Regions from separate parts of the Homo sapiens genome. Here regions 1 and 3 are each linked to region 2. Evidence: fine-mapped expression QTL. A gene starts in region 2. Each other region holds a variant in brackets. All regions are shown on one strand. Distances are from middle to middle. Region 1 overlaps RYR1 (ryanodine receptor 1). Region 2 holds the start of MAP4K1 (mitogen-activated protein kinase kinase kinase kinase 1). Region 3 overlaps RYR1 (ryanodine receptor 1).

The links. PIP is the estimated chance that this variant, and not a neighbour inherited with it, causes the effect.
Region 1: its variant is fine-mapped to the expression of MAP4K1 in whole blood (TOPMed, PIP 0.91).
Region 3: its variant is fine-mapped to the expression of MAP4K1 in whole blood (TOPMed, PIP above 0.99). The same link has a PIP of 0.9 or more in blood mononuclear cells.

What each region holds. Positions count from the first base shown.
Region 1 is chr19:38,525,818-38,529,916 of GRCh38, forward strand. It overlaps RYR1 (ryanodine receptor 1), which reads left to right. Exons shown (of 106, transcript NM_000540.3): 72 at 1,176-1,235; 73 at 1,830-1,967; 74 at 2,489-2,601; 75 at 2,782-2,878; 76 at 3,134-3,240. Among named protein-coding and RNA genes, the nearest start is that of MAP4K1-AS1, 68 kb to the right of the region's middle. The variant C/G (reference allele first, on the strand shown) is at 2,271.
Region 2 is chr19:38,615,974-38,620,072 of GRCh38, forward strand. It overlaps MAP4K1 (mitogen-activated protein kinase kinase kinase kinase 1), which reads right to left and starts at 1,980. Exons shown (of 31, transcript NM_001042600.3): 1 at 1,824-1,980; 2 at 1,595-1,652; 3 at 1,381-1,471; 4 at 222-286. The coding sequence starts at 1,922. EIF3K (eukaryotic translation initiation factor 3 subunit K) reads left to right here and starts at 3,215. Exons shown (of 8, transcript NM_013234.4): 1 at 3,215-3,354. The coding sequence starts at 3,296. RefSeq lists an enhancer at 2,504-2,553.
Region 3 is chr19:38,545,747-38,549,845 of GRCh38, forward strand. RYR1 (ryanodine receptor 1) reads left to right here. Exons shown (of 106, transcript NM_000540.3): 88 at 699-780; 89 at 2,487-2,674. Among named protein-coding and RNA genes, the nearest start is that of MAP4K1-AS1, 49 kb to the right of the region's middle. The variant A/G (reference allele first, on the strand shown) is at 1,868.

The DNA.
Region 1 (4,099 bases), 90 kb before region 2:
AAACCTGCTGAGACCCTGAGAGTCCCCCCAACAAGATGAGCCCCTGAGATCCTCTGAACCCTCCACCAAGGCCCCTTCAAGCCCCTTGGGACCTACTGAGACCCTCATGACCCCTCCTTCCCTCCCTGCCAAGACTGAACCTCTGGGTTCCTGCTGAGCCCTTGGCTCACCATCCCTTTCCTTCAGGACCCTGCTGACACCTGGGCCCTGTTGAAGCCCAACTAAGCCCCCAAGACTCTCAGGGGCTCAGGGAGCCCTGCGACCCTGCATAACTCCCCAGGATCCATGAACCCCAAGCCCGGGACTGTACCCAAACCTCTGAGGTCTCAACTGTCCTGGAGACCAAAATACCCGGGCTGTAGAACCTCTTAAGCTTGCTGGGATATCAAGGAGGCCTCCCGGGACCCCACTTACCCCTTGTGTGGGACAACAAGGACAATCTCCCTCCTCTCCGATCCTTTCCAGCTTCAGGGACTCTAAGGAACCCTCCCAGGATTCTGCCCCAAGACCCCTATAGCCCTCCCCCCAGGACCACACCAACACCCTGACAACCTACTAACCCCCTGGACCCCTAAAGACCACCGACTTCTCCCCTGCTACCACCAGGACACCCCTTCCCTCAGAACCTCAGGCACCTCCCAGGACTGCTGAGTCCTGCCAGGACGCCAGAGAGCCCTCCAGGGCTCCATGGACCCCTCACCTTGGTCCTTGAGGGCTCCCCGTCCTAGAACCCCAGTGAACCCCCACCCTGCTGATGCCCCCTTTGGCCCCTGTGTAACCAGTGACTCCGTTGACCTACGTGATCCCCCATGACCTCTGCTGACCCCTTCTGATCTTCAAAGACTCCCTGCCCCACTCTGACCCCCCAGTCATCCCTCTTTGGCCATATTTGACCTTTGATGAGATCCTCTTGTCACCCTTTGCCTCTTCCCAGACCTCCACGAGGCCCCTCGAATCCTTACTGTATCTTCAAGGTGACTCTGTGACCCTCCGGCCCCTCTAGGACCCCTTCTGACCCCGTCAACCTCTGCATCCTTTTGTTTCTCTCAGACCCCCACCCCCACCCCAGAAAAACCTCTTCAGTTCCTGGGGTGCTGGGCCTGGAAGGAAAGGGTTGTGGGTCAGGAAGGAGGATGGGACCTCCAGAGTGACCCAGCCTGGCTCTGTCTCCCCAGAAAGACACAGATGAGGAGGTCCGGGAATTTCTGCACAACAACCTTCACCTTCAGGGAAAGGTATGCCTCCTTCCTCTGCAAGCAAAAGAAGCAAGTCAGAAAGTAACCACAATATTAGTGAAGGTTTGAGCATTTACCAAAGACCAGGCATTGAAGAAAGACCTCAAAGGTCAGGAGTTTGAGACCAGCCTGGCCAATGTGGCGAAACCATGTTTCTACTAAAAATACAACAATTAGGCCGGGCACAATGGCTCATGCCTGTAATCCCAACACTTTGGAAGGCCAAGGCGGGCAGATCACCTGAGGTTAGGAGTTCGAGACCAGCCTGGCCAACGTGGTGAAACCCCGTCTCTACTAAAAGTACAAAATTAGCTGGGTGTGATGGCGGGTGCCTGTAGTCCCGGCTACTCAGGAGGCTGAAGCAGGAGAATCGCTTGAGCCCAGGAGGCAGAGGTTGCAGTGAGCTGAGATCGCACCACTGCACTCCAGCCTGGGTGATGGGGCGAGGCTCCGTCTCAAAACAAAAAGATGAAGAAGAAGAAAGGCCTCAACATGCACTCACCCATTGAGTCCTCCCAAAAACGGAAAGGGGACATCCGGCGGACACTGTGGGAAGGGTCCCTCACGCCGGCCACTCCTTCTTCCTCCCTTCAGGTCGAAGGCTCCCCGTCTCTGCGCTGGCAGATGGCTCTGTACCGGGGCGTCCCGGGTCGCGAGGAGGACGCCGATGACCCCGAGAAAATCGTGCGCAGAGTCCAGGAAGTGTCAGCCGTGCTCTACTACCTGGACCAGGTGGGTGGGGCCGGAGGGGTCTTTCTACTGGGTCTCTGGGCGGAGCCTGGCGGGGGGAGGGGCTTCAAGGATGTGGGTGGGGTCTGGAGATGACTATTAAGTTTTGGGGCAGGGCAGGAGGTGGAGCCTCGAGTTTAAGGCGAGGCTTAGAATGGATCGGGGGAGGGGTCTGCTGCTTAATCTTGCATCTGGGGGCGGGACAGGGAAGGGGCAGATCTTTAGGTCTAGGGGTGGGGCCTAGAGGAGATGCGTTGAGTTTGTGGGCAGGGCCTTGGGTGGGTCGTAGAATTGGTCGTGGCCTGG[C/G]TCGTGGTCCTGGCTCTGTGGGACCTGGCCTAGGATGGAAACTTAGGTCTGGAGGCGGAGTCAGGACCCTGACTCTGTTGGTGGAGACAAGGTTTTCCTTCTGCCGTGTGAGTCTTAACCTGAATATGGACTTCGACACAGCTGGGCAGTTTCATCCAGGGCTGGGAGTGAGAGGGGCAGGGTCTGGGGATGTGACTGTCCTGCTATCCCCTCCCCAGACCGAGCACCCTTACAAGTCTAAGAAGGCCGTGTGGCACAAGCTTTTGTCCAAACAGCGCCGGCGGGCAGTCGTGGCCTGTTTCCGTATGACGCCCCTGTACAACCTGCCCACGTAAGGCCCCCAGGGACAAGGGAAGCGTGAAGGGCTGCGGAGAAAGGGTGGCTGGAGAGTCTGGAGAATGGAGGGCCAACGTGATGGGGCCTTGAGGGTGGTTGGGGGCTGCAGGCGCATGGGAGGTCGGGAAGCACGGAGGAGGGCGCGTCCCAGTGACGTCACACCTCTCCCCTGCAGGCACCGGGCATGTAACATGTTCCTGGAGAGCTACAAGGCTGCATGGATCCTGACTGAAGACCACAGTTTTGAGGACCGCATGATAGATGACCTTTCAGTGAGCTGGGACCCGCCTGGGGGAGTGGGGGGCGAGCTGGATAGGGCTGGGGCGGAGGCCACCCTTGGCACACCTCCAGGGGTCGGCCCTCCACATCAAGGGGTATAGAAATGCCAGCTCCTGGCTTGAGTAGAACCAAAGTAGGGCGCAGGATGTGGGAAAAGAGAAAAAAAAATCCAGACCAACAGGGACATGGGGGCAGTGACAGGAGGGGACTCTAGAAACCCTCTCCCCAAGTCTCCCCTCTCCCACCAGAAAGCTGGGGAGCAGGAGGAGGAGGAGGAAGAGGTGGAAGAGAAGAAGCCAGACCCCCTGCACCAGTTGGTCCTGCACTTCAGCCGCACTGCCCTGACGGAAAAGAGGTGAAGACTCTTGCCAGGGCCCCAGAAATGCCCCCAAGGTCCTGGGGCCACCCCCAGCCCAGCAGCTTCCCTGTGCCTCAGGAGAGGCCCTCCAGGTCCTGGGGGAGCCCAAGACAGACGGATCTTTAAATATCACTTTGCTGGTCAGGCACGGTGGCTCACGCCTGTAGTCCCAGCAATCTGGGAGGCTGAGGCAGGCAATCACTTGAGCCCAGGAGTTCAAGACCAGCCTGGCCAATATGGCAAAACCCCGTTTCTACAAAAATACAATAAATAGCCAGGCTTGGTGGTGGGCACTTGTAATCCCATCTACTCAGGAGGCTGAGGCGGAAGAATCGCTTGAACCTGGGAGGCGGAGGTTGCAGTGAGCCGAGATCATACCACTGCACTCCAGCCTGGGCGACAGAGCGAGACTCTGTCTCAAAAAGAAAAGAAAAGGAACGTAAATGTCACTTTGCTAGGACAGGCACAGCCAACATACACCGTTGCATGGCTGAACACTTCACAAGGGCATGTCTGAGGGGTTCGTATCACAGACAATGTAGATTAACTAGGCTTTTCTAGAAGAAAGTGTCTTGCTCAAATAAAATCAGTATATTATGAAAAAAATCCATATGTATGACAAATTTCCAACAGACAGAAGTAGTGGGGAGGTTTTCTGTAATTCCCTCAAAAGCTTCATGTAGGCTAATGACAGGCTTAGTAATAAATAATTGTGATGCAGATGGCGCAGCTGCTGCCGCTGCTGCTGACAGTAGCAGGCAGCCATTCATCAAATGCTTATTATGTGTCAGGCACCAAGCTAAGCGGGGATATCTATATCCTCTCACTTAACCGCCACACTGTGAGACGGATTATT
Region 2 (4,099 bases):
AAAAAAAAAAAAAAAAAGCCAGGCACAGTGGCTCAAGCCCGTAGTTTCAGCACTTCGACAGCTGAAGGCAAGAGGATCAGCTCAGCCCAGGAGTTTGAAATATGGCCCAGAAAGACAGTTCCTGTGAGATACACACACAGAGACGGAAGAGGTGAATTTGGGTCGGGGTTGGGGGGTGGGGATAGGGAGGGGTGCTTGGGTCCCGTTGTCCTTTCTCTAACCTTGGTAGATGTCCTGGAGAGAACCAGCCCCACAGAATTCCATGCAGATCCAGAGTTTCTGCAACCTGCAGTGGTTCAAGAGTAAGAATAATAATAGCAGTAAATACATTATTATTTGCAGGAAAGCCCCTGGTTTGCTTCTGTCTTGTTCTAGTTCAATAAGAACTTTAACGTAACAGCTCTCATCACTCCACCTCTCCTTGTCTACCAGAGTGAGGTTGTTTCATTCCCATTTTACAGACAAGGAAGTTAAGGCTCAGAGAGGAAATGTGAGTTCCGGGGCAAGTCAACTCAAACCTAGGCCTTTGGGCGGGACCCCACTGCCGTCCCACGCCAACCTAGGAGGCAGGGCAGAGATCTCACGGGTTGTGGAGATTTGGAGGGGACAGAGGGGCCCAGGGCACCTGTTCTGGGGAGCAGAGGTCATTATTGGGGCATCTGGAATATTAATTTGGGGATCAGGGAATTTAGGAGTTTATATTAAAGGAGCAGAGAGTGAAACTGGGTGAGCCAAAGAGCAGAATGGTGAGAGCTTCGTTTCAAGGGAGTTGATTTCAAATTCAGTTACTATGAAGAGATCAATTTGGGGTACTCTTGGTCAGAAATGGGAATTTTAGATTGGAGATTAGATTAGAGGCTGCTCTGGTCAGAAAAGTGGGACTTAGGAGTGAGGATCATGGTAGGGTTAGCCCAGTCAAAAATGGGGGTCCAGGATGGGAGGTCGGGTTATGGTGAGAAATGGAAGTTCAAGGTTAGAACTGAGGGTGCCAAGACCAGGCGCGGTGGATCACACCTGTAATCCCAGCACTTTCGGAGGCCGAGGCGAGTGGATCACAAGGTCAGGAGTTCAAGACCAGCCTGGCCAAGATGGTGAAACCCCATCTCTACTAAAAATACAAAAATTTGCCGGGCAGGGTGGTGAGCGCCTGTAATCCCAGCTACTCGGGAGTCTGAGGCAGAGAATTGCTTGAACCCAGGAGGCAGAGGTTGCAGTGAGCTGAGATCATGCCACTGCACTCCAGCCTGGCAACAGAACAAGACTCCATCTCAAAAAAGAAAAAGAAAAGAAAAAAAAAGAACTGAGGGTACCCCCATCAAGAAATGGGGACTCCGGGTTAGGGGCTGGGCTGGGTGCCAGGGTGGGTCTGAGGTTCATCACCAGAGATAACTCCCATGGTAGGCCACGATGTTGGCGTGCCGGCAAGTTTTCAATATGAGGATTTCCTTCTGAAGGGTGGAGACATCATCATCTGTGAGGAGGGCGGGAGAGAAAAGGCAGCTCGCATGGGGAGAGAGCTACAGGGGAGGTGATCCCAGTGTCCCAGGAGGCGAAGGTGGGGATGTGGGGAAGGAGCTCCATGTTCCCTCCTCACCAGGCTCCATCTTCACCATCTTCAGTGCCACCAGGTCCCCTGACACCTTGTCTCGAGCCTTGCAAAGGGGAAGTTGGCAGTCAGGCAGGCTCCATTTGCCAGAGTCCCTCCACAGCATCCCTGAGTCAAGGTCAAGAACTGGGACCCCCTCTTGCAGCCTCCTCCCTGCCGAGGGCTTGCCTTAAAGGTCACTGGTTGTAGGGTGTTGGGGACAGAGGGGCTTCCTCACCTTAAAGACTTCCCCATACGTGCCGCCACCCAGCCGCTGTAGCAGGTCATAGTGGTCCCGGGGGTCTCTATTGAAAATGTCAGGGTCCACGACGTCCATCCCTGGGGGCCTGAGCTGGGCCTGCGCCCAGGGGCCAGCAGGGCCTCAGGGCTCAACTTCTGGCACCTCCCTCCGTCCCCAGAAGCCCTGCACCCGCCTTGCCTCCGCGGGCTGTGGCCTCCCCCCTCCTCACTCTCGCTTCCTGCCCCAGCTGCACTGCACGACTGTGCAACGGGCTCCACCCCCCCGTCCCCTGGGCTCTGAGAGCCTCTGAGGGGCAGCTTGTCTTGGGACCCAAGGGACCACCCTCAACCTCCAAGGCCCAGGGCTGGATGTAAATGTGATGCAAATGATCTTAATCGTAACTGGGTTGGAGGGGGGTGCCTTAGAACCCCCGCCCCCGTCTCCTAGGTAGTGTCTAAACCTCTGCTGGGTGCTTGAAGGTTTGGCCACAACCCGAAGGCGGCAGGTCTGCAAAGGGATGGCTATGCAGTGTACATGCCTGTTCACCTGTCACATACATGCACTTGGGTTACCTCCTCTGCACTGCGCAGGCGTGTAGACGTGCATCTGCCTGGATACCTGTGTGCACAGTACACACGTGGATGTACCCAGGACATATACCTCCACATGCATGGCACATAACTGCATTTTGTAGGCCTGCAGTGTACAAAACCTATACATAATATATAATTCATGGCAGTACAAATGGGACGCTCGCCCTCAGCTCCAAGACCGGAACCTAATGGAGACGGGGCGCGATCCGGCGAAGTCCAGGAGCCCTCACCCCAGCCCCTGCCCGGCAGAGCACAGTAGCTTTGTGGGACCCTCCTCCTGGAGCTGGGGACCAAGGGCTGAGACTTGAAACTGGAGAGCTCAGGATCCTGCACCAGGCGCCCAGGCCTGTGGCAAGAGGGACCTCAGAACACCTCCCTCGGAACTTGGCCATGGCCTAAACGTAAGGCTGCTGCGTGCATTCCCGCAGAGCTCCGTGGCCTCATGGCCGCGCGCAATACAACGCGCGCGCACGCCGCCAGAGCTCCGGGTGCTTCCCGGTGAGTTCGCGCGCGCACGCTCCCGCGCTACCGGCACTGGAACTGGGTCTGTGAGGCCCGGGAAAAGCTTAGCCCCGCCCCCTCGCCACGAGAGGCGCCTGCGCACTGGGATCCAGTAAGATTTTTCTCACGCTGTCTGTCCAGCTTGAGTGGCGCGAATGCGCACGCGCCAATTGCGCCTGCGAGGAAGAAGTCACGTGGCAGCCGGAAAGCGTGGCGGCTGCTGCTAGAGCCTTTCCCTTTACCGCACCCAAGGAGCTGGAGCGACAACAACGACGTCGTTTCCGTTTCCACCACCTCTTCCTGTTCCCGTCCTTGAGGACGCCGTGCCGGGTCAGTGTTAGCCTCCAGCCCTGGTTGTGGAAGGCGACAGAAGTCATGGCGATGTTTGAGCAGATGAGAGCCAACGTGGGCAAGTTGCTCAAGGGTATCGACAGGTCTGAGCCCGGTTGGAGGAAGCGCTCTGGCCAAGCGGGGCGGAGGAGAGGGTTTTCCGGAGACAGCAAGGGGTGTTCAGGGTCCTGGGCTTGCCGCGGGGTGGGGTTTCTCTATCCTCCTGGAGGAGGAGATGCTTAAAGAAACGGCACTGAGCTGGGGGTAGTGGCTCACGCCTGTGATCCTAGCACTTTGGGAGGCCGAGGTAGGTGGGTCGCCTGAGCCCAGGAGTTAGAGACCAGCCTGGGCAACAGCCAAACCCCGTCTCTAAAAGAAAGAAACAAAAGCACTGCAAAGGCCTAGAAGCGAGAGAATCTTGGTACCACTCAGTCTCTTCGTAAATTGCCTTAAGGTTTCCTTCTCTGCTCCGCCTCCTTTGAGTGCCTCTTAATCTCTCCCTTCTCTGCTCTATAAGTCATTCATTCTCCACACGTTTACTGAAATAAACTGTCAGTGCTAGGCAATGCTGGGAACCACAGGCGAATCAGACAGCGGCAGATCATGCCTTCACGGTCTGAGTTCCCTTTCCATAAGGGAGACAAACCTGACAGCAGACAGCGATAGCCGGGAGAGATTAGAACTGAAATGGGGGAAGCAAAGGCCAGAGTGTTCAGGTGGACATGGAGGAAGTAGGCAGCGAGGTAGGCAGGAGAGGATGGGGCTGGATCAGGGTGGAGGCCTGAACAGGGGAGGAAGGGGTGAGTAGCAGAGACATTCAGGAGGCCAGGTGTACAAGCTGCAGTGACT
Region 3 (4,099 bases), 70 kb before region 2:
GTTGCAGTGAGCCGAGATTGCGCCATTACATTCCGGCCTGGGCAACAAGAGCAAAACTCTGTCTCAAAAAGAAAGAAATTACCACTTTGTGAGCCAAAAGTGATCACATGTTGGCAATTTTATGTGACTCAACCTAACATAAATAGGGGCCATGAGGCAAAACTTTGTATTGGAGGTTTCTATGGGCCCTACACTGTGGCCCTATGTTCCCCGCAGACGGCTTACCAGAAAGCACATGGCTGTCTCTGCAGCCTTCCTCCTGAACCCAGAGTCCCACTCTTGCCATCACACATTATATTCAACATACATCTGTCAATCCCACCGTAGGCCAGGCACAGTGCTGGGCTCACATCCCTTCCTAGACCTGGGTCTCTGTCCCCAGTGTTTGTCTCTGTCTGTCTCTGTCTCTCTCTGCCCCAAATGTCTGCCCCGCAAGCCTCTCAGTCCTCCTTGTCTGCCAGCCTTCCCACTACCCATCACCTATCGAGCCCGTCCCCCAAGTGCCAACCCCACCCCCACAATCTTGTCTCTCTGCCCCTTCCCCTGCTTCCGAGGAACATGTCTGGACTCGGGTCCCCTCGGAGGTAAGAGGGGAGAAAACGGGTTTAGGCCCTGCTGGGTAGGTGAGGAGGGGGAGAAGCAACAGAGGTGGGGGAGGTGTATGCTGAGACCAGCCCTCACCGAGCTGGGATCTCTAGGACTCAAGCCAGATCGAGCTGCTGAAGGAGCTGCTGGATCTGCAGAAGGACATGGTGGTGATGTTGCTGTCGCTACTAGAAGGTAAACACCCAGGAGTGAGGGTGAGGGAACAGTAAAGAGGTTCAGAGAAGCCTGAGAATGGCCCCCTGAGACCCGGGAGACCCTAATCCTCAACCCCATCTGACATCGTGTCAGGATCCATGGGTTGATGAAGAAGCCATAATAGGCCAGATGCGGTGGCTACACCTGTAATCCCAGCACTTTGGGAGGCCGAGGTGGGAAGATCACCTGAAGTCAGGAGTTTGAGACCAGCCTGGGCAACATGGTGAGACCCTGTCTCTACTAAAAATACAAAAATTAGCCTAGTGTGGTGGTGTGTGCCTGTAGACCCAGCTACTCGGGAGGCTGAGGTGGGAGGATCACCAGAGCCCGGGAGGTCCAGGCTGCAGTGAGCTGTGATCACACCACTGCACTCCAGCCTGGGTGACAGAGCAAGACCCTGTCTCAAAAAAACAAACCCCAAAAACAAACCAAATGTCCAAATGTGGCAAAAGATAAACAATTGATGAATGTGGATATATTAGGATCCCTTTTTTTTTTTTTTCTTTTCTGAGACGGAGTCTCGCTCTGCCGCTCAGGCTGGAGGTGCGGTGGCGCGATCTCGGCTCACTGCAAGCTCCGCCTCCCAGGTTCACGCCATTCTCCTGCTTGGCCTCCCCGGTAGCTGGGACTACAGGCGCCCGCCACCACACCTGGCTAATTTTTTTTTTTTTTTTTTTGTATTTTTAGTAGAGACGGGGTTTCACCATGTTGGTCAGGATGGTCTGGATCTCCTGACTTCGTGATCCTCCCGCCTCAGCCTCCCAAAGTGCTGGGATTACAGACTTGAGCCACTGCGCCCAGCCTACATTAAAATTTAAAAATTACAAAAATAAACTGGAGCCAAGCTTCAGCTGCTGCCTTTAGAGGGAGTGTGGGATCGCAGTTTGCCAATCTCTACCTCTCCTTGCTGCTTACCACTGGCTAGCCTCAGTCTTCTGTGGACCCTCCTGACTGTGTGTACTGGTGGAAGTTTTAGTTGTGTAAGCCCTGAGGTCATGCAGCTCTGAGTTCAAATCCATTCTCCCCACTTTACTGGCTATGTAACTTTGAGTGCATGACTTTCTCT[A/G]TGTCTCAGTTTCTCTTCCTAAAAGTAGAGTCACACACTTCCCTTTTTGTGTGATTGTGCCAGGGTAGCATTTGGCACCTACCTTTAGCGTACATCATCATTATCTTTTTTTTTTTTTTTGAGACAGAGTCTCACTCCATCACCCAGGCTGGAGTGCAGTGGCACGATCTCGGCTCTGCAACCTCCGCCTCCCAGGTTCAAGCAATTCTCGTGCCTCAGCCTCCCAAGTAGCTGGAAATACAAGCACATGCCACCACGCCCAGCTGATTTTGTATTTTTAATAGAGACGGGGTTTCACCATGTTGGCCAGGCTGGTCTCAAACTCCTGGCCTCAAGTGATCCACCCACCTCGGTCTCCCAAAGTGCTGGGATTACAGGCGTGAGCCACCACGTCCGACCTGACATCATTAGCTTTACTGGGGGAGGTGGGCAAAGGCAGGATCAGCCAGGTTGGCACAGGAGGCTGACGCAGGTCAGGAAGGGACCTGTGGAGGGGAGGCTGTGGCTGGCCAGGGACACTCCAGCAGCGTGGTGGCTCCTGGGCTGGAAAGAGAGGCAAGCCTGGTGGGGCCCCAGAAGGGAGTGTTCACCGGCCACACTGACCTGGGGCTGCCTGCAGGGAACGTGGTGAACGGCATGATCGCCCGGCAGATGGTGGACATGCTCGTGGAATCCTCATCCAATGTGGAGATGATCCTCAAGTTCTTCGACATGTTCCTGAAACTCAAGGACATTGTGGGCTCTGAAGCCTTCCAGGACTACGTAACGGATCCCCGTGGCCTCATCTCCAAGAAGGACTTCCAGAAGGTGGGTGTGGGACATCGTGTGGGCCCAGGACTTGGGTGGGGTTGCCAAGGGCCAGCCATACCCTTCTGGCTGGCTGCCTCAGGCAAGAGACATCTCTGCAAGCCTCACTTTCCTTGTTTGTAAAATGAGGATAAAACAGTCCTTGGGTTATATGTATTCTGTTTTATTTCATTTTAGAGACAAGGTCTTTCTCTGTTGCCCAGGCTGGAGTGCAGTGGCGTGATCATAGCTCACTGCAGCCTTGACCTCCTGGCTTAAGCAATCCTCCCACCTCAGCCTCCTGAGTAGTTGGGACGACGGGTGTGTGACATCATGCCTGGCTAATTTTTAAGTTTATTTTTTGTAGAGATGTGGTCTCACTACATTACCCAGGCTCCTCTTGAACTCTTGGGCTCCAACAATTCTCCTACCTTGGCCTCCCAAAGTGCTGGGATTATAGGCATGAGCCACCTCGCTCAGCCCCCTTGGGTTATTTTGAGGATGAAATGCATTAACACAGATGAGAACCGTTATTACTGTTATCTTTATTGATAGTCATAACATTATCATTATTGTGAATAGGCATCAGTTATTCCATCAATAAACATTGGCTGGCTTTCTTCTCTGTGTAGGGCCTGTAGTGACACTATTGACGCATCAATGACCAAGATAGACACAGCCCGTGCTTTCATGGGTTTATAGTCTAATGGGGGAGGCAGTCACTAACTAGACCATTCCAAGTCTAAATAATGAGCCTGCTAGGAGGGAAGTGCTGGAACATCCTTATTCAGAAACCCACTCCTCCTCCTCTAACCACCTCTCCCATCCTAACTCTCCATCTTTTCTTCTGAGCCTCAGTTTCCTACTCTGTAAAATGGGGATAGGATAATCACATTAACCACTAACTATTGGCAGTGTGCGGTGGTTCATGCCTATAATCCCAGCAATTTGGGAGGCCGAGGTGGGAGGATCGCTTGAGCCCAAGAGTTCGAGATCAGCCTGGGCAACCTAGTGAAACCCTGTATCTATAAAAATAAAAATAAAACAACTATTAACTATTGTGAGGATGGGCAGTGCGGGCAGTACCTGGAATATGGTGAGTCCTCAAGAGATGTTAGCTGCTATTACTACTCCCTGATCTTTAATGTTACCATTTTGTTAACTTTTTATTTTGAAATAACTTCAGGTTTATAGAGACGTTGCAAGAACAGCACATAGAATTTCTGAATACCTTTCACCCACATTGCCCAAATGTTTTCTATTTACTATTTACTCCATCATGATTTCCCTTTCCTTTCCTTTTTTTTTTTTTTTTTTTTTTTTGAGACGGAGTTTTGCTCTTGTTGCCCAGGCTGGAGTGCAGTGGTGCAATCTCAGCTCAGTGCAACCTCCGCCTCCTGGGTTCAAGCGATTCTCCTGCCTCAGCCTCCTGAGTAGCTGGGATTA